Linked DNA regions of Homo sapiens: region 1 is linked to region 2. The links come from fine-mapping of genetic effects on gene expression. A gene starts in region 2. The other region holds a variant in brackets. All regions are shown on one strand. Distances are from middle to middle. Region 1 has its middle 8.3 kb from the start of SELENON. Region 2 holds the start of MTFR1L (mitochondrial fission regulator 1 like).

What was found. PIP is the estimated chance that this variant, and not a neighbour inherited with it, causes the effect.
Region 1: its variant is fine-mapped to the expression of MTFR1L in ileum (GTEx, PIP above 0.99).

What each region holds. Positions count from the first base shown.
Region 1 is chr1:25,786,050-25,797,690 of GRCh38, reverse strand. No RefSeq gene overlaps it. Among named protein-coding and RNA genes, the nearest start is that of SELENON, 8.3 kb to the left of the region's middle. The variant C/T (reference allele first, on the strand shown) is at 5,883.
Region 2 is chr1:25,816,308-25,825,874 of GRCh38, reverse strand. It overlaps MTFR1L (mitochondrial fission regulator 1 like), which reads right to left and starts at 5,921. Exons shown (of 7, transcript NM_001099625.2): 1 at 5,846-5,921; 2 at 2,747-2,856; 3 at 2,127-2,231. The coding sequence starts at 2,770. It overlaps SELENON (selenoprotein N), which reads right to left. Exons shown (of 12, transcript NM_206926.2): 12 at 7,654-9,567. It overlaps LOC646471 (a long non-coding RNA gene), which reads left to right and starts at 2,269. Exons shown (of 1, transcript NR_024498.1): 1 at 2,269-5,921. RefSeq lists enhancers at 5,126-5,215, 5,596-5,735, 7,378-7,878 and silencers at 5,326-5,495, 5,946-6,135.

The DNA.
Region 1 (11,641 bases), 29 kb after region 2:
GCACCCAGGAAGATCATTCCAGAGGGTGGGAACAGCAGAGGTGAAGGCCCAGTGATGTGAAACTCGATGGAGTATCCGTAGCGTCTCGAGAATATAGTCCAGTGGATTTGAGCAGAGGGACCCGGGGGGGAAGTGTGAAGAGGGAGGAGGAGGAGGCAGGAAGGTTGGGCTGGCACGCTGGCCAGCTTGTGAAAAGCCTGGACTTTACCACTGAGACAATGTGGAGGCATCAGAAGAGAGGGACATTCAGCCACTGCAGCACCCTTCAGACTCCCTACTGGGTCCCAGCTTCTGCCTGGGGGCACCCACACCCACCTCCCTGCGCAGAGGGTGTTGGTGTAAGCACTCCAGGCCACTCCATCCACCCATGAGAAGAGGAGGGAGCCTGACCTGCCTGCAGCCACATTTAAGTAGGGGCAGGGTCACTGCCTCGAATCCTGGTGTCTCTCTCTCTCTCCTACACACACACACACCCCTGATGTGTGTGTGTCTCTCTCTCTTTCTCTCTCCTACACACACACACACACGCGCGCACACACACGCGCGCACACACACACGCACACGCGCGCGCGCGCACACACACACACACACACATCCCTGCCTGCCTCCTAGTAGCATCCTCTCTTCTGCTTCCTGTCTCTTTGGGGTAAACTCACCAGGAAAGGCCTTCTTCCCGCAGGGGGCGCTGCTGCCCTCCAGGGAATCAAATCAAATTAGGATTTTCCATTCCAGTTTCACCGGCGACAGTGAGCCAGGAAGAGGGCCATTTGGCTTTGTTTTTTGTGTTTCTTCTCTTCATCTGGGACCCTAGAGAGGCAAGTGATTTTCCCCAAACCCAACCCTAACATCTTGGCAGCCAATAATAGGACCAACATTTGAGAACAAAGGATCACTTGGGGGAAACAGGTGCCACTGCAGGAGTTGCTTAAGCATGCCCGGACCACGTGGGCCTCTCCGCAAACTAAATACCTGCTGTGTGCCAGGGACTGTTCTCAGCCCTGGGAACACAGTATTATAGAAGACGGGCAAGGCACTTCCTCTGTGGGGGCTGAATATTCTACTCGGAGGAAGGAAATGACAGACACACAAGGTAATTTCAGAGAAAGGTAAGTGTGAAGGAGTGAGACAGGGCACTGTGGCACAGTGCCACAGGCAGGCATCAGCACCGTAGCTGGGAGGTGACACATACACTGCGCCTGGAACGGGAAGAAGCAGCCAGCTATGAGAAGAATCGAGGAAGGAGCGTCCCAGGCACGGAGAAGAGGGGAGAGCCGGTGCAAAGGCCTGGGGTGGAAACAAGCTTGGTATGTCCAGGAGACACACAGAAGGCAGAGTGAGTTATGGGAAGAGAAAAGCTTGGTGACAGAGGCTGGGACAGGACGTCGGAATCTTGCAGGCCTCGGCAACAAACTTCATTCAATTTATTTATTGAGACAGGGTCTCACTCTGTCCCCCAGGCTGCAGTGCAGTGGCACGATCTCAGTTCACTGCAACGTTGAACTCCTGGGCTCAAAGCATCCTTCCACCCCAGACTATCAAGTAGCTGGGACCACAGGTGTGAGTCACGGCACTTGGTCAAACTTCATTCTAGATATGATGTGAAACCATTATAAGGTGTTAAGCAGGGTGGTGACAATGTGTGACTTGGTTTTTTGTTAGTTTGTTTGTTTTTGAGATGGAATCTTGCTCTTGTCGCTCAGGCTGGAGTGTAGTGGCGCGATCTAGGCTCACTGAAACCTCCGCCTCCCGGATTCAAGCAATTCTCCTGCCTCAGCCTCCAGAGTAGCTGGGATTACAGGTGCCGGCCACCGAGCCTGGCTACTTTTTGTATTTTTAGTAGAGACAGGGTTTCACCATATTGGCCAAGCTGGGCTCAAACTCCTGACCTCAAGTGATCCGCCTACCTCGGCCTCCCAAAGTGCTGGGATTACAGGAGTGAGCCACCGCACTCGGCTGGTGACTTGTTTTTTAAAAGACCTTTCTCATAGCCCAGATGCAGAAACAACCCAAATTTCCAGCAATGAATGGATAAACAATGCGGTGTATCCATTTGATAAGTATTAGTGGGCAATAATAAACCTTAGCAACTTTAAGCTGGGTGGAAAAAGCCAAACACAAAGACCACGGCTTGTGTGATTCATTCAGTGAAATGTCCAGAATCCACAGATCCAGAGAGACAGAAACTAAATTAGCAGTTGCCTGGGGCTATAGTGGGAGACCGGGAGGAGGGGGCTGGGGAGTAACTGCTAATGGGTACAAAGTTTCTTCTGGGGTGATAAAATGTTCTAAAATTAGATTATAATGATGCTTGCACAATTCTGTGATATACTAAAAAAACATGAATTGTCCATCTTTGAAGTGGGTGGATTTTATGGCATGTAAATGATATCCCAGTAAAGCCTCTTGGTTTTGATGTTTGTTTAAAGATCTTTCTGGTTTCTGGGTAGAGAATAGAGTTAGGGGATGGACAGAGGAAGGAGGGAGACAGGAGGCTAATGCAGTCGCCCAGACATAAGATGGCAGGGATTGGGCAGGCGTGGACAAGATATATGAGTGTAGCAGAGCCACAGACAGGATTTGCGGATGGGTCAGAAGTGGACGGCAAGAGGAAAGACCAGCATCAGCCATGGGTTGAGCTTGGGTAGCTGGTGGCACCATCCTGAGATGAGGCACCCTGGAGGGACCCCGGCTGGGGAGAAGGCTTGGTCCAGTCTGCCAGGTTAAGATGCCTGAGAGCTGGCTGGGCGTGGTGGCTCACGCCTATAATCCCAGCACTTTGGGATGCTGGGGTGGGCGGATCATGAGGTCAGGAGGTCGAGACCATCCTGGCCAACATGGTGAAACCCCATCTTTACTAAAAATACAAAAAATTAGCTGGGCGTGGTGGCGCACGCCTGTAGTCCCAGCTACTCGGGAGGCTGAGGCAGGAGAATCGCTTGAACCTGGAAGGCTGAGGTTGCAGTGAGCCAAGATCACACCACTGCACTCCAGCCTGGTGATAGAGGGAGACTCCAGCTCAAAAAAAAAAAAAAAGATGCCTGAGAGTCACCCTCACGGAGGTGTCAAGGAGGCAGTTGTGTGTGTATGACTATGGGGCTATGAACGGTAGGGAAGGGGGGCGTGGATTATAAATCTGGGAGTTGCCAGTCTAAAAATGGCACTTAAAGCCACAAGATTCAATGAGATCATTGAAGAGAGAGAAGAGAAGCCGCCTTTGGCCTATGTGGCCACAGATGCCGCCGTGTCTTGGAATGTTGAGTGGCTTTGGCTGGATTTACAGGCATGGAGCTGTGGCTGTGATTAGCCAAAAAATAGATTAACGTTAGAGGTCATGACAGGCTTGGCTTGGCTCTCGTACTGTCCAGGCTGGGAGAGAGATTTGTTTCCCGGGGTCAGTAAATGCCCCCGGGACTTTGCCAGATGGACAGATTTAGTCTCAGCATCACGAGTGCAGAGGTCCTGGTTACCCAGCCTGGCTGCCCACTAGTCACCTGGGGCCTTTGAAGGAGACCAATGCTTGGGGCCAACCCCCAGTTGGTTGGGGGAAAGAGGGACATTTTTACCAGCTCTCCAGTGATTTTGAGGGAGAAAATGTAAAGACGGCCAAGTTCCACACACAAGCCACAAAAAAGAGTTTGACATTCGGGGCCTTTCCAACGGTGAGTGTCAGGCACAGGCAGATGGTACCGGATGATCTGGCCTGAATTCTGTTCCACTTGTCTTGTGTGTTTTGAACTGGGTCCAGGGCCAAGGAGGGAACCGTGCTGGGGGGTCAGCCACCCTGGTCTGCTCAGGACTGACACTGATGGAGCACCGAGGATGTGGGATATTCGGTCCTACAAGCAAGAAAGCCCTAACTGGGATGAGCTAGTCACCCAAACAAGGGAGAGGCATAGCTCAGCTTGCATCTGAGAGGCTTTATTTCATCATCTCTGATCTTGGTTGTGCACTTCAGAGGTTTTTTTTTTTTTTACCACAAATGGGTACAAGAGGGCTTCATAATGACCAGACAAGAAAGTGTGAGCATCCTTATTAGACAGGAGCTAAGTGGTTATAAGTTGTATCATATAAATTAAGACAGAAAATGCAGAGGATTTTTTTTTTTTTTTGAGACAAGGTCTCACTGTCACCCTGGCTGGAGTACAGTGGTGCAACTTCAGCTCACTGCAATCTCTGCCTCCCAGGCTCAACTGATCCTCTTACCTCTGCCTCCTGGGCTCAAGAGAGCCTCCCACCTCAGCCTCCCGAGTAGCTGGGATTACAGGCGCCTGCCACCACACCCGGCTAATTTTTGTATGTTTAGTAGAGATGGGGTTTCACCATGTTGGCCAGGCTGGTCTCTAACTCCTGACCTCAGGTGATCCGCCCACCTCGGCCTCCGAAAGTGCTGGGATTATGGTTGTGAGCCACTATACCCAGCCTATTTTATTTTGAGATGGGGTCTCACTCTGTTGCCCTGGCTGCAGTGCTATGGCATGATCATAGCTCACTGCAGCCTTGAACTCCTGGCCTCAAGCCAGCCTCCCGCCTTGACCTCCCAAAGTGCTGGGATTACAGGTGTGAGCCACTATACCCAGCCTCAGTGGAATGTTTATAATGCAAAAAACCATGAAAAGAATGAAATGTCTGTGCCTGAAATTAGGTGATGGTGAAAGAGGTCCACATAGGGTTTGCTCTGGGGATGGCAGGTATTGACTAGAAGCAGCACATGCAAGCCTTCTGGGTGCTGGAATAGTCTTGATCTTGACTGGGGAGGTGGTCATATGAGCGTGCATATAGGTCAACATTCCTTGAGCTGGTCATTTAAGAATAGTGCGTTTTAGGCTGGGTGCAATGGCTCACGCCTGTAATCCCGACACTTTGGGAGGCTGAGGCGGGTGGATCACCTGAGGTCAGGAGTTCAAGAACAACCTGGCTAACATGGTGAAACCCCGTTTCTACCAAAAATACAAAAATTAGCCGGGTGTGGTCCTGTAGTCCCAGCTACTCGGGAGGCTGAAGCATGAGAATCGCTTAAACCTGGGAGGCGGAATTTGCAGTGAGCTGAGATTGCGCCATTGCACGCCAGCCTGGGCGACAGAGTGACATCGTGTCTCAAAAAAAAAAAAAAAAAAAAAAGAATAGTGCATTTTACACATTACTGTATCTACATTATATCTCAAAAAAAATTTTTTTTTAAAGTTTCACTTAAAAACTCAAGGAGAAATAGGACTGGTTTAAAACACTAGAGCCACGGAAAATTAAAGCACAACAAAGGCTTAACACCGGAGCCATGGAAAACAGTAGTATTTTATTTTATTATTTTATTTTATATTTTATTTTATTTGAGACAGGGTCTCACTCTGTTGCCCAGGCTGGGCTTGCTAGGGCACAGTCATAGCTCACTGCAGCCTTGGACTCCTGGCCTCAAGTGAACTGCCTTGAAACACCGGTTTGAAACACTGGAGCTTTGGAAAATTACAGCATGATGAAGGCAGACATGCTGACTGGGCTGGAGGAAAGGAGTGATTTCTCAGGAGACAGCTGGGACACGTGGACACAGATGAAAGGGAAGAGGAGGCAGATAGTTCCTGACTGCTCCAAAGATAGGCTAAGGGGATCGGGAGATATTAGGGATCCAAATGGCTCCATGACCCCTGGGAGGACCTTGAGAGCTATAGTTGGTGGCACCAGTCAAGGCTGTGGGGTGGTCCCTTGGTGATCAGGTGAGCTGTGGACAGGGAAGGTGTCCAGACCACATGGTGATCATAGGTGGGGAACCGTGTGGAGTCAGGACCCTTCAGGAAGCACACGGAGAATGACACAGCAGAAGGTGACCCAGCCAGGCAGACTTAGTTAGAACCTGGGCAGGTGCGGAGCACTCAGTGTCCTGCTTGGAATTA[C/T]CCATGGAGGAGGGGTGAAGGTAGACAATGTTATGTTTCAGCAATATGTGCTTTTGAGAGACCCAGAACTCCCTGACTTCATACCTGCCACAAATCCTGAAGGTTTCAAAGAAGAATGAAAAGAAGGCCCCAGGCCCCACAAACAGCCTCCGTTGGCGCATGTGCGAGAGAAGGAGCCGGGCCACCTTGGGAAGCAGCTTCCATTTTTTAAAAGCGCAGCTGGGCCCGCTTGAAAGGAGTGGTAGAAACAGAGGGGGCAGCAGCCTGGAGGCTTGATCCACGGCTACAGGGAAGAAGGGTCAGAGGAAAGGTTTCTGGTGCCCTTGAAGTCTCCCAGGCTCCTCAAAACCCAGGGAGTAAAAAAGCAGAGGAGAGGTCATGCACACAGGGCAGAGGGCACTCGGGCCTCGCGGCACTCCTGGGGCACAGGCTTCAGAAGCTTCCGCTTAGGAATCTGAGAATGGTTTTCCACTGAGACAGATGTGAGAGGAAAAAGAATTCCTAGGTCTCTCCACTCAGAAGTCGGAGGAAACTTTCAGAAATGTAAAGTGGGTCATCTCATGTGCTGCTTTAAACTCTTCCTAGCTTCTTGCTGCTCTCAGATTAAAATTAAACTCTGTCTTAGTCCATTTTATGTCGCTATAACAGAAAACCACATACTGGATAATTTATAAAGAAAGGAATGTATTTCTAGAGGCTGGGAAATCCAAGGTTGGGGGCCTGCATCTGGCAAGGGCCTTCGTGCTGCGTCCACTTGTGGCCAGAGGCAGAAGGGCAGAAGAGTGCCAGAGAGCAAGCAAGCAAGCAAGCAAGCAAGCGAGGGCTGAATCGGCTTTCAGAACAACCCACGTTAATGCATTCACAAGGGCAGAGCCCTCATGGTCTAATTACCTCTTAACAAGCCAGGTTCCACTTCTTAACACCATCCAAAGGCAATTGCATTTCGACATGAGTTTTGGAGGGGACATTCAAACCACAGCAAGTACTTACCTGCCCACCAGGCACTGAGGGATGGAACCCCTTCTGCCGACTTCCTTTGACCCCCCAGACCCTCCCACTCGCTTACTGCCTTTCTGTGTCTCAGATGCAACAACACTTCCTGCCTCTGAGCCTTTGCATTCACTGTTCCCTCTGCCTGGAATGCTCTTTGCACAGCCTGTCACAAATGTCAGCTCCCCAGGGGCCATCCCTGACCTCTCCATCTCTAGTGATCTCCGTGCGAACTCAATTCCTGGAGAAGGTGGTCCATGCAGGTCCTAAGACCTGGGAAAGCCACAGTTGAAATTTTGTAACTTGTGCAAGACGATGGAATTATCCCTGAAGGTCTCTCTCTTTGAGAAGTGGCCCAGAGGGGTATGGCGCTGGCCCACATCTTCTCCGTTCTCTGCTGTTTACACTCTGTCCTTGCTCTGGTCCCTGGATGGCGAGGACATCGTGGATCTGGGTTATCTGGGTTCTGGGAGCATGATTTTGCTAGGATAACTGCCAGAGGAAAAGGAGTGTGCTGGTATTTTCTAACCTCGGGCAGCTGCTGGGAATCTCATCTCTATTGAGTCAGACTTTGGAAGAGCAGATGCTCCAGAAATTTGGGCTAGGGTTAATTCAACAGTGGAGAAGGTGAAAGTACGACATCAGCAATGTAGGAGTTGACCCAGGAGGTGGCTAGGGCTGCAGAGCCTGACCCTGGAGCAAGCCTGTTAGGGCCTCAGTTCCCTCCTCTATAAATGGGGGTGCCATCTTTTCCTGCCCATCTCCCTTCCAAAGTTTTGTAGACAGGATTTATCAGGTACTCCATGAAGAGGAAACACTAATTGGACCTCAAACATTCCTGGGCAAGCTCTCGGCATCTTCCTCAGCCCTGGGCCCCTGCCCGAGCATCCCCCACCACCAGACGGGTCCCTGGAAGACCTTGGACAGTCAACAAATCTTCATCCCAGTTTCCCAATTTCTGTAGATTCAGGGCTAGCTAATGGCAAAATGCTTCCTCAATGGGAAAAGCAGAAAACGTTCAGATTTATTGCTTTGAGATTTTGGTCTGTCTCCTGGGCCTGGTTGATGCGGTTTCCCCCAAGTTTCAGAGCATTTTGTTTAAAAAGAAGAATTTTTGACAGCAGTGTTTTGCCTCACATTTACACAAGGTTTTATAGTTTACAAAGAGGTTCACATCATAACAATCACTGCTAGGATGCACTGAGTTCTTACAAGGGGTGGGGTGGGGAGGCTCGATTAACCCTTGAAAGCACTTTCCTTTTCCATGGATGGAAAAGCAGAGGCTCAGAGGAGCTTAACTAAGGGGCTTGCCCAAGGCCACACAGTCCTGGAAAAGGGCAGGGCAGAGCTGAACACAGGTCCACCAGTTTCAAATGTTGTGCTTGTATGAAACCGACATGGGTTGTCCTCTCCTGTCGCACCCCTCTGCCTCTCTTGCCTTCAGCCTACCCACTGCATGCCCTGCTGCAGACAGTGAGTAAGAAAACACAAAACAAAACAAAACCAAACTCAGAGGCTTGTGCAGAAAACAGGCTGGGATGAGTATAAAAATAACCAGGTATGTTCAAGGGAATCCTTGAGTCCCTAAACAATGTATTTTCTGCTAACATGATTTATGTAGTGGTGCAGGTGATGGAGGTCTTTGCAGCACCAACAGGGTAGTTGCTTTCTGAGTTCTAATTCTGCACTGTCCAAAACAGCAGCCAGCAGCAATGCATAGCTCTTTAAATTTAATTAAAATGAAATGAAATTGGCCAGGCGCGGTGGCTCACGCCTGTAATCCCAGCACTTTGGGAGGCTGAGACGGGTAAATCACAAGGTCAGGAGTTCAAGACCAGCCTGGCCAAGATGCTGAAACCCTGTCTCTACTAAAAATACAAAAATTAGCCTGGAGTGGTGGCATGCACCTGTAATCCCAGCTACTTGGAAGGCTGAGGCAGGAGAATTGCTTGAACCCGGGTGCCAGAGGTTGCAGTGAGCCGAGATCAAGCCACTGCACTCCAGCCTGGGCGACAGAGCAAGACTTCGTCTCAAAAAAAAAAAAAAAAATTAGCTGGGTGTGGTGGCGCACGCCTATAGTCCCAGCTACTCGGGAGGCTGAGGCAGGAGAATTGCTTGAACTCAGGAGGCAGAGGTTGCAGTGAGCCGAGATCGCGCCACTGCACTCCAGCCTGGTGACAGAACGAGACTCTGGTCAATTAAAAAAAAAAAAAAGGAAATAAAATTAAAAGTTTAGTTCCTCCATTGCACTTGCCACATTTTAAGTATTCCAGATCCACATGGGGTGACCCTATTGGACGCCACTGTTCTAAGCCACCAGCAGCCTGCTCCTGTCTTATCCTGGCTGTCCTGAAGAATGGAGAGCTGTTGACATAGGTGGCAGGCACACACCTGTTTTAAGGTAGGTCGCTTTGCAGTCAAGGTATCTATAGATGCTATCCTAATACCTGAGCCCCTCTACTCCACTCTGGAGCAGTTACAGCTCCAGGGATGCAAATAAAAGGCAGAAACCAAGGCAGTGGCCACCAACTGGGGTCTTGCTACTCAAAGTGTGGTCCAAGGACTGGCAGCATCAGCATCTCCCGGGAGCTTGTTAGAGAAAAGCAGAATCTGGCTGGGCACAGTGGCTCATGCCTGCCATCCTAGCACTTTGGAAAGCTGAGGCGGAAGGATAGCCTGAGCCCAGGATTCTGAGACCAACCTGAGAAATGTAGCGACAAAAAAAAAATTAGCTGGATGTGGCGGCACACCTGTAGTTTCAGCTATTCAGGAGGCTAGGTGGAAGGACTGCTTGAGCCCTGCAGATGGAGGTTGCAGTGAGCTATGATGGCCCCACTGAACTCCAGCCTGGGTGACAGAATAAGACCCTGTGTCAGGAAAAAAAAAAAAAAAGGCAGAATCTCAGGCTCCATGCCAGAGCCGCTGAACATGAACCTGGATTTTAACAAGCTCCCAGGTGATTCCTGTGCACGTTTGAGAAGCTCTGACTTAAGAGACAGGCTGAGCAGGAACAAAACAGTGCTCCAAATATAGGAAACCAAACTGATATTTTCAGATACAAAAAATAGAATCAGCCCCCTTCCTCCAGTAGGGTGTAATTAAGCATTAGTCACAGAGGGCCGAGCATCTTTGTGCCACATGACCAATGACCATACTTCCAAGGACAGGCCCCCAGGGGAAACGCTGGGGGAAGCTGGCCCATTCATCTCTAGCACTTTCTCAAACCACAGTGGGGTCACCTCCTCAAAGCAGAGGGAACGGAACTGAGCATCCATCTTGGATGCTGCCTTTAAATCAGATTTTCCATTTTTGCTTTTCTTCCCAATGCATTTGGCTGGTCTGACCAAATAGCCAGTCATTTAAAGGGAGGCACCTAGAAAAGGACTGTGCCCTGCTCGTCCCCCTTCCCGGGGCCTTGAGGCTCTGCAGACCTCAGTGCCAGGAGCTGGGTGTTGATGAAGCTTTCTGGGAAGGAGCTGACATCACACCCTTCTATGAGGGAAGCAGGTGCAAATGGTGCTTCCATCCTCAGCGAGGGCGCAGATGAGGCTTAAAATGAGCTTGGCAGCCACAGGCTGACCCCCAGCTGGGGAAGGAGAGGGCTGCTTCAGGGAGAGGTTTGGGTGTTCAGATTCTGTGGCTTGCAAAGCTCTCTCCTACCTTCAGTGAGAGGTTTGGGTGTTCAGATTCTGTGGCTTGCAAAGCTCTCTCCTACCTTCAGTGAGGATGAGTCATCCCTTAATTCCTCTCTCCTCTCGGCCTGTCTTGAGTCGTACTTATTTTTATCCGTGGAATGGAGTTAAGTTGCCAAAAGGATGATATTTCTCCACCTGCAAGGGCCCTCCTGGAGGATACATTTTAAAATATTCATTTTTACAATTTCCTCCCAGCAATACAGCAGAGGACAGGAGAGGAGAGGTAGACAGCCGCACGGGCCTGGCGGGGGAGCCTGGGGCTTGGGGAACTGCAAAGTGGCTTTGAGACAGAGAGACATTCTAGAAGTTATTCTGAGGACATAATTGGACAAAAGTGAAAAGGAGGATGGTTAAGTATGCTCTTCATAACTCTCTGTATAATACTGAAGAAATCAAAGCTAACTGTAAACAGTCCTGCTGTTTTTGCCTGTGCAGCCTGCAGATCCCTTATTTTGGTGATGAATCTCATGTTTTTCTCTAGGGAACAGCCCAACACCCATTGCACAGGGTAATCTTAGGGGGTCTGCCAAGCCAAGATGCCTGGCTCTGCCCTTGGCTGGGGCGGGCATGTGACCCAGGCCAGGCCACATGGAAAGGAGCCACAGCAGGATCTGGAAACATTTGGATTCAGCCCTCCTGATGGTGGTGCCTAGAGAGGCTTCCCTGGTTCTTGAAGGGGTCCCTGGCCAAGTCCTCTTTCTAGCCCTTATTGAGGTTTGGCTGTTTACTCCTTCCTGAGATTCCATAAGCCACCCCATGGCATTTCAGTAAATCCCTTTCTGTGCTTAAGTTGACAGAGTTGGTTTCTGTGATTTGTAACTAAAATCCCAGATGGACACAAACCCAAATGCCTGGCAACAGGGGCTTAGATCAGCAAAGTAGGCTACAGCACACAATGGAATACTCCACAAGCACGTACAGCGATGAGATAAACATGTATTTGTTGACATGGAAAGAGGTTCACAATGTACAGTTAAGTGCAAAAGCAGATTATAAGAAAACAGTGTGCATAGTAGGATACCACGGTGGCAAAATCTATATTCTATATATTCATAGAAAAAGGCCTAGAAGAAA
Region 2 (9,567 bases):
ACAACAGAGCCACATTCAAAAACAAAAACAGGCAAGACACATGAGAGTCTATGGGATTACAAACAGTTCTGTGTCTTCAGTGGAAAAGGCCTGAGTCACCTTTTAGTAGAGATGGCAACTGTCTAAAACCACTGTGCCCTCTGGTGAAAATACAAGTACAAGGTCATCCACAACCTGTTACAGCAATAGGAAATTTTTCCTGACTAGCTTTTTATAATCCTGTATAGCTAATTGAGATCTACATTGTTACAGCAATGCTGTTTTAAACAAACCTGAAAATTTGAATATATTTAGATTTAAATAAAAATAAATGATTATACAAAAGGAACCATAATAGGATTTCTTAAAATAGCTCCTCAACCTAGAGATGTTGAGTAAAGTGAAAAATTAGGATTCAGTCATGTTGACTGTGATTACAACAAAGTAAAAAACATCCATCTAGAAAAAGAGGACTACACTAAGACATTAATAGTTATTGTATTATTACTATGTAATTATAGGTAATTTATTTTCCTTTTACTTTTCATAATTTTAATATTTTCATATGCTTAAATTTTCAAAATAAATTGGTAAGAGTCCCTTAAATAATATTTAAGGTAATTTAATAATAATAATAAATGCATATTTACACACAAGTAAGATTCAACTGTTTCTGCTACAAATTATTTGGTATGGTAGATGGATCCAGGATTGATCGCTCCTGCATTTAGATAGGAAACCTGGGACTCACAGGAGTTAAGTGATACTCCAAGGTCACACAGAGAAGAACTTCCAGTGACCCAGGAACTAGTGCTAAAATAGGGCATTTGGGGGAAGCCTCCATTTGTTTTCCTGATTAGCCCTGAATGCTCCTTTGCTCTTGGCAATTAAATGAGTAAACAAATATAAAGTACAGCACAGTGCCTGACACATAGTATGTGCTCAGTAAATGTTATCTAGTATTACCAATACTGCTCACATACATTCCTGCTCTGTGAGAGCCTGTGCCCTTGATTGTCTCTGCCCAGCATCTGGCCAAAGAACTGAAGAGGGTATAGCCAAGTGTGGGGACGGCCTCTATGCAGTGAGCCACACTCCCTAGCTGTCTCCCTTTTTTTTTTCTGATGCTTCTGAGGCAAGTTAGGACCAGTTCCTGCCCAGGATCTTTAGACAATTCTGGATAGCTGGCAATCTGAATACTGGGACAGCTTTTCCTGCCCCCTACCCCTGCGACACTTCCAACTCCATTCCTGACCCTAATACCAACCCTGACACCTCTTCTAATTCCAGATCCAGTTCCTACAGACTCTGCTTCTTAGCATCTTTTATACAGATTTGGCTCCTTCATTTCTGTTTCTACCTGGGCCCACATCCTTTCATGCACATATTTCTATCTCCTCTGTGTGGGTAGAAAGCACAAGTATTTCTTTTGTATCCCAGCTCTCCAAATGCACACATCTGAACCATATAGTTTGGGGCTGGTGCTTAACCATTTAGTTCCTAGAGGGAGGCAGCTGGGACTAATAAATGCTACTTAGCTTTCTACCACAGAAGGGGTCTCAAGAGACCTGGGCCAGGTAGGAATCTCTGCTGCTGAGTGGGTGCTAAAGGATCCCTAGACACAGAGGTAAGACCAAAGCACCCCAGTAAAGGATGCCCAGATTGGCCAAAAAGAGAAGGCTGAGGAATTATGGCCTCAGAGAAACACTAAAAATAGTGGAGCTGGGCATGGTGGCTTGTGCCTGTAATCCCAGCTACATAGGAGGCTGAGGCAGGAGGACTGCTTGAGCCCAGGAGTTTAAGACCTAGCCTGGGCAACATAGGGAGACCTCATCTCAAAAAATAATAAAATAAAAATACTGGCTACATGGTCAATTCTTAGGGCTGGTGAAGAAAAGCAGAGTTCAACTCAAAAATCACAATAGTCAGTGTCCCATGTGGGGGACCTGTCAGGTTCCTTGTGGTCACAGGTTTGTATGCACTCAGGAGGACACAGTGACCAGGATATCTTATAAGCATTTAACAAATATTTCATAACAGAATGAAAAGTGACCAGGAAACAACCTACTTGGGCAGTACCAAGGGGTTTGGGGCACAGAAGCAGCACTGTCTGAGCCTCTACTCTCCTGCCCTTCCAACATACTCACCTCAAAGGACGCCCGGGCACACGGCTTCAAGGGTAGGTTGGTCCCAATTCTTCTTACTACACTTCGAGCAGCCCCATGTGGCTTGTTTTGCCAGATTGGGATGGTCTGGAGCAAAGAGACGGAGACAGCTACAACCCCAGAGAATGAATCCAACTACTGTCCTTGTCCTCTCCTCTCTAGGTTTGTGGAGACTGAATTCCACAAACCTAGGGACAGGGCACTCTCTAGGGGCAAGTCAACTCTCAATTATAGTGAGGGCAGGTTCCCCAGTTGCCAGCCTACACCCTGGCCAGCCACCCAAGGGAATACCTGCTGCTGCTAAGGCAGTCAATGTTGGGAGGGTCAGGGAAGGGGAGAGGAAGTAGCTGAGTGTAGAGATTATCCAGGCTTTCCTTCCCGTCCTCTGTACAGAAAGGCAGACATACACTGACTCCTGAAGTGCCCCAGGATCATAGTTGGTTCTTCTTAGGGGGAGGGAGTGAAACGGTGGCCTTGCTCCAATTCCAGGCCTCTGGAGAAAGGAGTGCTCAACTGGAGAGTCTCAGAACCTTTTACAGTACTTCAGCAGGCCCAGCACCCAACCTTCCCCACCATACCCCTGCCCTGGGAATGCCCCTTACCACAGTGGCTTCCATTCCTGACATTTGAACCAGCTCCTGCACTTGAAGGACAAGGCAGCCACTGGGCAGCTCCGGGAGGCGGGAGGCGTGACTCCTTCATATCAGGCCATCTGGAGGAGCACCAGATTTCCCTCTTGTGAAACAACCCCCCACAGTGGGGATTTAATGGTCACCACACAAGCCCCAAAAAACCAGGCCCTGCAGAGCCATGACTTCACAGGGGAGAAAACCAGCCCAAGAGGCTGCCCTCACCCAACACTTAGCTCTAAGTCCAGACTCTTAAAGGTTCTGTTAAAGATCTGCGGCCAGGCGCAGTGGCTCACATCTGTAATCCCAGCACTTTGGGAGGCCGAGGTGGGCGGATCACGAGGTCAGGAGAGCGAGACCATCCTGGCTAACACAGTGAAGCCCTGTCTCTACTAAAAATACAAAAAATTAGCCAGGTGTGGTGGCGGGCACCTGTAGTACCAGCTACTTGGGAGGCTGAGGCAGGAGAATGGCGTGAACCCAGGAGGCAGAGCTTGCAGTGAGCCGAGATCACGCCACTGCACTCCAACCTGGGTGACAGAGCGAGACTCCGTCTCAAAAAAAAAAAAAAAAAAAAAAGATTTGCCTAGTGAGCTTGGCCAACCCAAGAGCCTTCCTGGGCTCTCAGGTTTCTTGAGGCAAAACTTCTAAAGATGCAAATAGAATCCTTGGTAGCTACAAAGCTCATCTAGCCAAATTATAAGTACTATCCAAGCCCAGGATTCATTCTTGAAGATGAGATGTAAAAGCACTGCTGGGCCCTTGCAAAGGGAGAGATCAGAGAAAATAGGAGAACGAACACCAGCTCATGCCAATCTCAGTCTCATGAGCTACAGAGAAAAAGAGCCAAAAAAGTTTATCCTGGCTCAGCCACCTTCTGGCTTTGTAGCTACAGGCAAGTTATTTAACTTTTCTGAATGTTGGTTTTTCCATCTGGAAAAAGGAGACAGGAAAAGCTGCCACTGGAGGCTACCTTAAGGGTCAATGAGTGAAATGGGGTTGAGTGCTTAATGAACTGTTAAAACATGACACAGATGGGTGAGGTGACATCTGACTGCTCTTCACAGCAGTCCTTGCATGGTGAGCAGATGCAATCAGTGTGCTCGTTCATTCACTTGTTCATCAAACACCAACAGTACCCACTTGTGCCAGGCCTTGTGCTGGGCACCGTAGGGGCTATGGAAGGAGTAAGACACAGTCATGCTCTCAAGGAACTCGCTGTCCAGCAGAGTGATAGGACATGAATACATACTTCTAGCAAAGGCTGAGTAGCATTAGGCAGGTGGCCAGATGAGGTCAGAGCTCTGGCCCTAGTGCCCTGTAGTAAGTTGCGAGGGAGTAGGAAATGAAGACAAAACAGCAAGAGCACAGGTCCAGCACAAGAAGGTGAAGGACATGGAAAGAGGAGCAGAGCATGATAAAGCTACAAAAGTAGGGGGCAAGTCATGAGGTCCGGGTCACTGGGGAGCCCTGGACAGGCTCTGAATGGGAGATAGACTAGACTGACAAAGCAGCTCTTTCTGGAGACCTCCTGTGGAGGGTCCCCTCTTCTACCCTTGGGAGACGAGGTGTCATTCACTTCACGATACACATGGGGAAAGGAAGTTGGACAGGGGAAGGCACTTGTCTAAGGTCACTCAGTGGTCATGCCAGTGCAAAGCACCCAAAGCCTGGTCCAGGTCCTGCCACCTCCTGCGTGGGCTCCATCTTCTCGGCTCAGTTCAAGCCTTTATTATCAGAGTCCCTCTGTGTGCCAGGCTCTGTGCTGAATGTCCGTGTCGGCCACAAATTGCACTAACGGTGCTTACTGCCACTTCCTCTCCGACCTTACCTCCAAAGACCCAGCCGGGCCTAACCCTCACACACAGCCAGAGGAATCCTTCCCAAACACAGTTAATCACATCGCTCATCCGTTTAAAACTGGCTTACTAGAGCCAACACAGGATAAAATCCACAATCAGTCCCAAACCCATCTTTCTCTGCCGTCTCTAGACCACATTCACTGAGCACCAAGGCCTGCACGCTTCGCAGCCAGCCCTCCTGCTCTCCCCCTTGCCCTCCAGCCACACTGGCCCTCAACCCCCAACACTGGGCCCACCTCTGAGCCCTGCATCAAACACCAGCACCCCCTTCGCCGAGCTCATTCTTCATCATTCCTCAGAGCTCAGCTTAAGCATCACCTTCCTTCCCTGCGACAGGGTCAGGTCCTTTCCTGTGCGCTCCGCAGCACCCTGCCTGTCCCTCGGAGTCCTCGCGAGAGGAACTAGATAACTGTGATCCCCGCGCACAGCACGGTGTCTGCCTAGGACACAGTGAGCGCTTCAACGCGCTGAACTAAACGAATGAAGGGGAACACCAACTCAGCTGTCACCCCCGCCCCCAAGTGTCACTGGCTAGAAGATCTTCCCCCGGTTCGCCGGCAGCACCGGTGGGTCTTGTCACCTCTGCGCCCCGCAGCCCTCCGGAGGCTGCAGTTGCTGTCTGCTGACAGGCGTCCCCTCAGGAGAACGGGAGCTCCTCCAGCGCAGGGCCCTGCTCAGCACCCCTGGTCCCGGGGGCCCCCACGGAGGCCGCCGCGCTCAGTGAAACTTTGCCGCGCGCAGCAGTGGCCGGAGACCCGCGCGGACCCTCTCCCCGCGGGGACCCGCCAGGGCGAGTCGCCCCTCCCCCGCGGCAGACGACCCGACCTGGGCCAAGGTCGGCCAAGTGCTCGCCGCCTGCCCAGCGGCCCTTGGACCCACAGGACCCGGACCCGAGTGCGCGGAAGCCTCCGAGCCGCGGCCAGGTCTCAGAATGCGCGGCGGGGCAGCCCGGCCCGTCAAGCAGCGAAGCCGAAACTAGAAGCCTGAGGTCTGGCTTGGTCACTGTTTGCTGGGGAACTCCGACGAGCAACTACCCTTCGGGGACTCAGTTTCCCCCGGGCCAAGTGAGACGGACAGCTGCGGCTCCCGCGAGAACTCGCGCGGGAACAGGAGCTGCGGGCTCCGCACAGCGCCCGGCACGTAGACCCAGTCTACTAACGGGCTGGAAGGTCGCGCTCCCGCCTCCGCGCCTCCCTAGAACCTTTCTCACCTCAAGCTCGGGCTCCCGGACTCTCTCACCTCACGGCCCCTCCTTCCACCTTGGGCCGCCCAGCCTCAACCGCCCTCACTTCCGCTGACCCGCCCCCCGGAAGCGATCCTCCGCAGCTGCGCACCGAGGCGCACCTCCGCGCACCCTCAGGAGGCGGGTCCAGCTCGGTGGCGAGGGGAGCGCGGCCCCCGAGTGGGCGAGGCGCTGGCGGCTGTAGGCTCCGATACCGCGGAGCACACTCCCCTCCATCGAGACCGTGCCCCCGCGGGGTCTGTGTCCCCGGGAGGAGTTGGCTGCGTTTGGAGATCCCTCGGCCTGGTATTCGTCGCGTCTCCCTGCTTGTTGCTCTCCACGTTTAGCCCCATCCGACTTCTGGAAGCCCAGGGGTGTGTCGCTCGACCCCTAAAATATGCTCCTACCCCTAGGGCAAACTTCAGAATCCTCACCCTGGCCCCCTTCCCAGTTCTTGGTTCCCAGGCAGGTCCCTTTGCAAAGCCTCTCTCCAGCAAGAATGCGCAGAATGGGCCTCTTTCTCCTCTTGACTCCTGCCCTCCAGCACTTTGCAGCTTTCTTCTATTTTAGCCTCTCTCTCTCTCTCTCACACACACACACACACACACACACACACACACACACACACACGGTATATTCAATGAGTTTGCTTATTAGATGGGTACTTGATGTACAAGACTCCAGAGGCTCTGTGGGAAGAGCCACATTCCTTCCAGGCTCACTAACCCACTCCCTCTTTGTGCTCCAGCCCTCACTGTCTTGGTCTGTGGCATGCAGTTCCTGGGTCACATTTCCTTCTCTGCCTTCAGCACAGCCTCGGGCTGTGCCTGGCTCCCAGGCTGGAGTTCCTTGGTTCCAAAGCCTGCAGTCCCCTCTGCCAGAGACAGAGCTGGTTTCATGGGTGAACAGCCCATGCAGTCACAACGGGCCGCATGCTCAGAATCCTGTACTTGGTTTAGTACTTTGCTGTTGCCGTCTTGAAATGATTTTCTAATAGGGGTTCTTGTGTTTTCATTTTGCACGGGGCTGTGCAAATTATGTGACTGGTCCTGGCTAGAGACCTCAGAGGTCGTCCACCCTGATCTCCACCATATCTCAAACGCTGAAGATTGACTTCCAGGTCTGGCCCTCTTCCCAGGATGGCACATTGTGTTTTAATCATTACCTTTCCCTCCTGTGCGATGGCGGATCATGCAAGTCCACGCTGGCTGTCTGTCCTGGGTGTAGATGCTGATTTGGTGTCCCACTCAGATCCCCTTGCAGGAAGAACGGAGCTCCCTACCTGGGAATTTCCTTCACCTCCCAAGCCAATGACTGATAAAAGGTCCAAAAGGCCAGTTCAGCTCTGCAGTGTGGTTTATGCCCCACAGCTCTTCCACTGTGGGTCAGGCCAAGGCTGGGCTGAGACTGTTCCTGCTCAGCATTTTTCCTTTCCCTCTTCTGCTTCCTTCCTTCTTTTACTGGTTTTTCTGGAAGTACACTCCCCCCCAGCCCCACCAAACAAACAAAACAAACAAACAAAAAAACACTTCATGCCTGTCTCAGGCTCTGCTTTTAAGACAATGATTTTAACTCCCAGATCTCTCTCAACAGAGAGCACCAGATTCTCAAAACAGTAAGTCCTACCACTTGTTCTATCGTAAAACTTATTTTGGGCAAGTCACTCAAGCCTTCGATAGGTAAGATAGTACCTGAAAGCATTCCAGCTCAACTCTGCCCCAAGAGGGAGCCACCCCATGGAAGGACGGAGCTGAGCAACATGCCACTCAAAGGAAAAGCACTTAGAACCACTCTAGTTAGTCTTCTCTAATTTTATTACAGGGCATGTTGGGGACAGGGGAGGGAAGTGTTAGAGGAGTGACAGGGCAGCCCGGGGCCCTCTCCCACCCTGAGCCTCGAGGCCTGGTGGGGGACATGAACTGCAGAGGCATCAGATAAGGCCTCAGAAAGCCCAGGCCATCATTTTCCATGGGACCAGGCTGGCTCAATGTGGAACTGGCCCTCCCAGAGCAGCAGGAGAAGGGCTCGCATGGGCTGCCCCCGTCACCTGTGCCTGACAGGATGGGGGGGGAGGCAGAGAGAGAGCATCAGACGCCCTCCCTCCCCATAAGGGGCATGGGGGATGGGGACACTTCCTCCCAGGACACAGGGAGCCTGGCTGAGCTGGCTGGCTCATGCCCCATCTGGTCTGGAGGTCAGAGGGGAGTGAGACACTCTGGTTTGAAAGGCCTTCCTTTCCACTTTGGGGAAAACAGGCAGGGAGAGAGGTGAGGGTGCCATGCCAAAAAACACCCCCAAATCCAGATGCAGACTTTGGAGCCACATGTGGGTTTGAATCTCAACTCTACCTGAGTGACCCTGGGCAAGTCACTTCACTTCCCTGAGACTCAAGTTTCATCAAGATGGGAACAATGAGCATCTGCCTCACAGGCTTGTCGTGAGGATTAAGTGAGAAGGTGCGTGTAATATTAGCGATGACTGGATGATACAAAATTAAGAACAAGGCTGGGCACGATTGCTCACGCCTGTAATCCCAGCACTTTGGGAGGCTGAGGCAGGTGGATCACCTGAGGTCAGAAGTTCCAGATCAGCCTGACCAATATGGTGAAACCCCATCTCTACTAAAAATACAAAAATTAGCCAGCCATGGTGGCATGCACCTGTAATCCCAGCTACTCGGGAGGCTGAGGCAAGAGAATTGCTTGAACCTGGGAGGTGGAGGTTGCAGTGAGCCAAGATCGAGCCATAGCACTCCAGCCTGGGTGACAGAGCAAGACTCCGTCTCAAAACAAAACAAAACAAAATTGAGAACAAGACTGGCTGGGGAAGGCTCAGTGGACACGCCCAAGGCAAGTGGGGTAACTCGGCACATAAAAGGCCCAGGAGTGGCTGCGGAGATGTCTGCCTTCCTTCTTCCTCTGCCAGGCTGAGTGAGCCCCGGGTGGGGTGAGGGGGTGGGGAGAGAACTGGGGGCTGGGGAGGGGGCAGCCTGACTTCAAGACCTTAATGAAAGAGAGTACAGGCATGCCTGTGGGCCTTTGTGGAGGATGGGACAGTGCTGGGGATCATGGATCCTCTGAGGACTGTTTTTAAAAAGCTGAAGAGGAGAAGGAAGAGAGGACTACTTCTTCCCATAGGTGCAGCTGCAAAGACATCAAGCTGGACCCATCGAGGATTTCGGATTCAGCCATCATGGGGCTGCTGCCGGGGAAGCCACTGCCCCTCCTTTCTCCTCAGCACTGGGGTTATAAAAAAATACCTACAAACCATGAGAAAGTTTGTGTAAAAACACTTTTCTGCACATATAAAAAGAGAGACTGGCCGTGGTCAGTGGCTCAGGACGTGGACCAAAGTCCCAAGAGTGGCCAAGGGGAGTCCGTGGTGCCCCAGAGGTAGAAGAGCTAGCCTGGGGCACCCCTGGTTGCCGGGACAGTGCCGGCTCTGGAGAAGGCTGTGGTGTTTGGCTGGGTTGTGCTTCTGTGGATGCAAGGTCTGAGGGGCAAGAGGGGCGGCAGGAGCGCTGGCTCCCGCAGTCCTGCAGAGACCCTGTGCTAAGGTAGGCGGTGGGAGTGCCTTGGCCCTGGGCCTCGGGAACCCCCTTAGTGAACCCCATTGCTAAAGGCAGAAACCCCTTCACAGTAAACTTCCCCAGATAGCTGGTCAGTGGCGTGGTCAGGGAAGCTGCAGGGGGTCCCGTCTGATTTCCACTC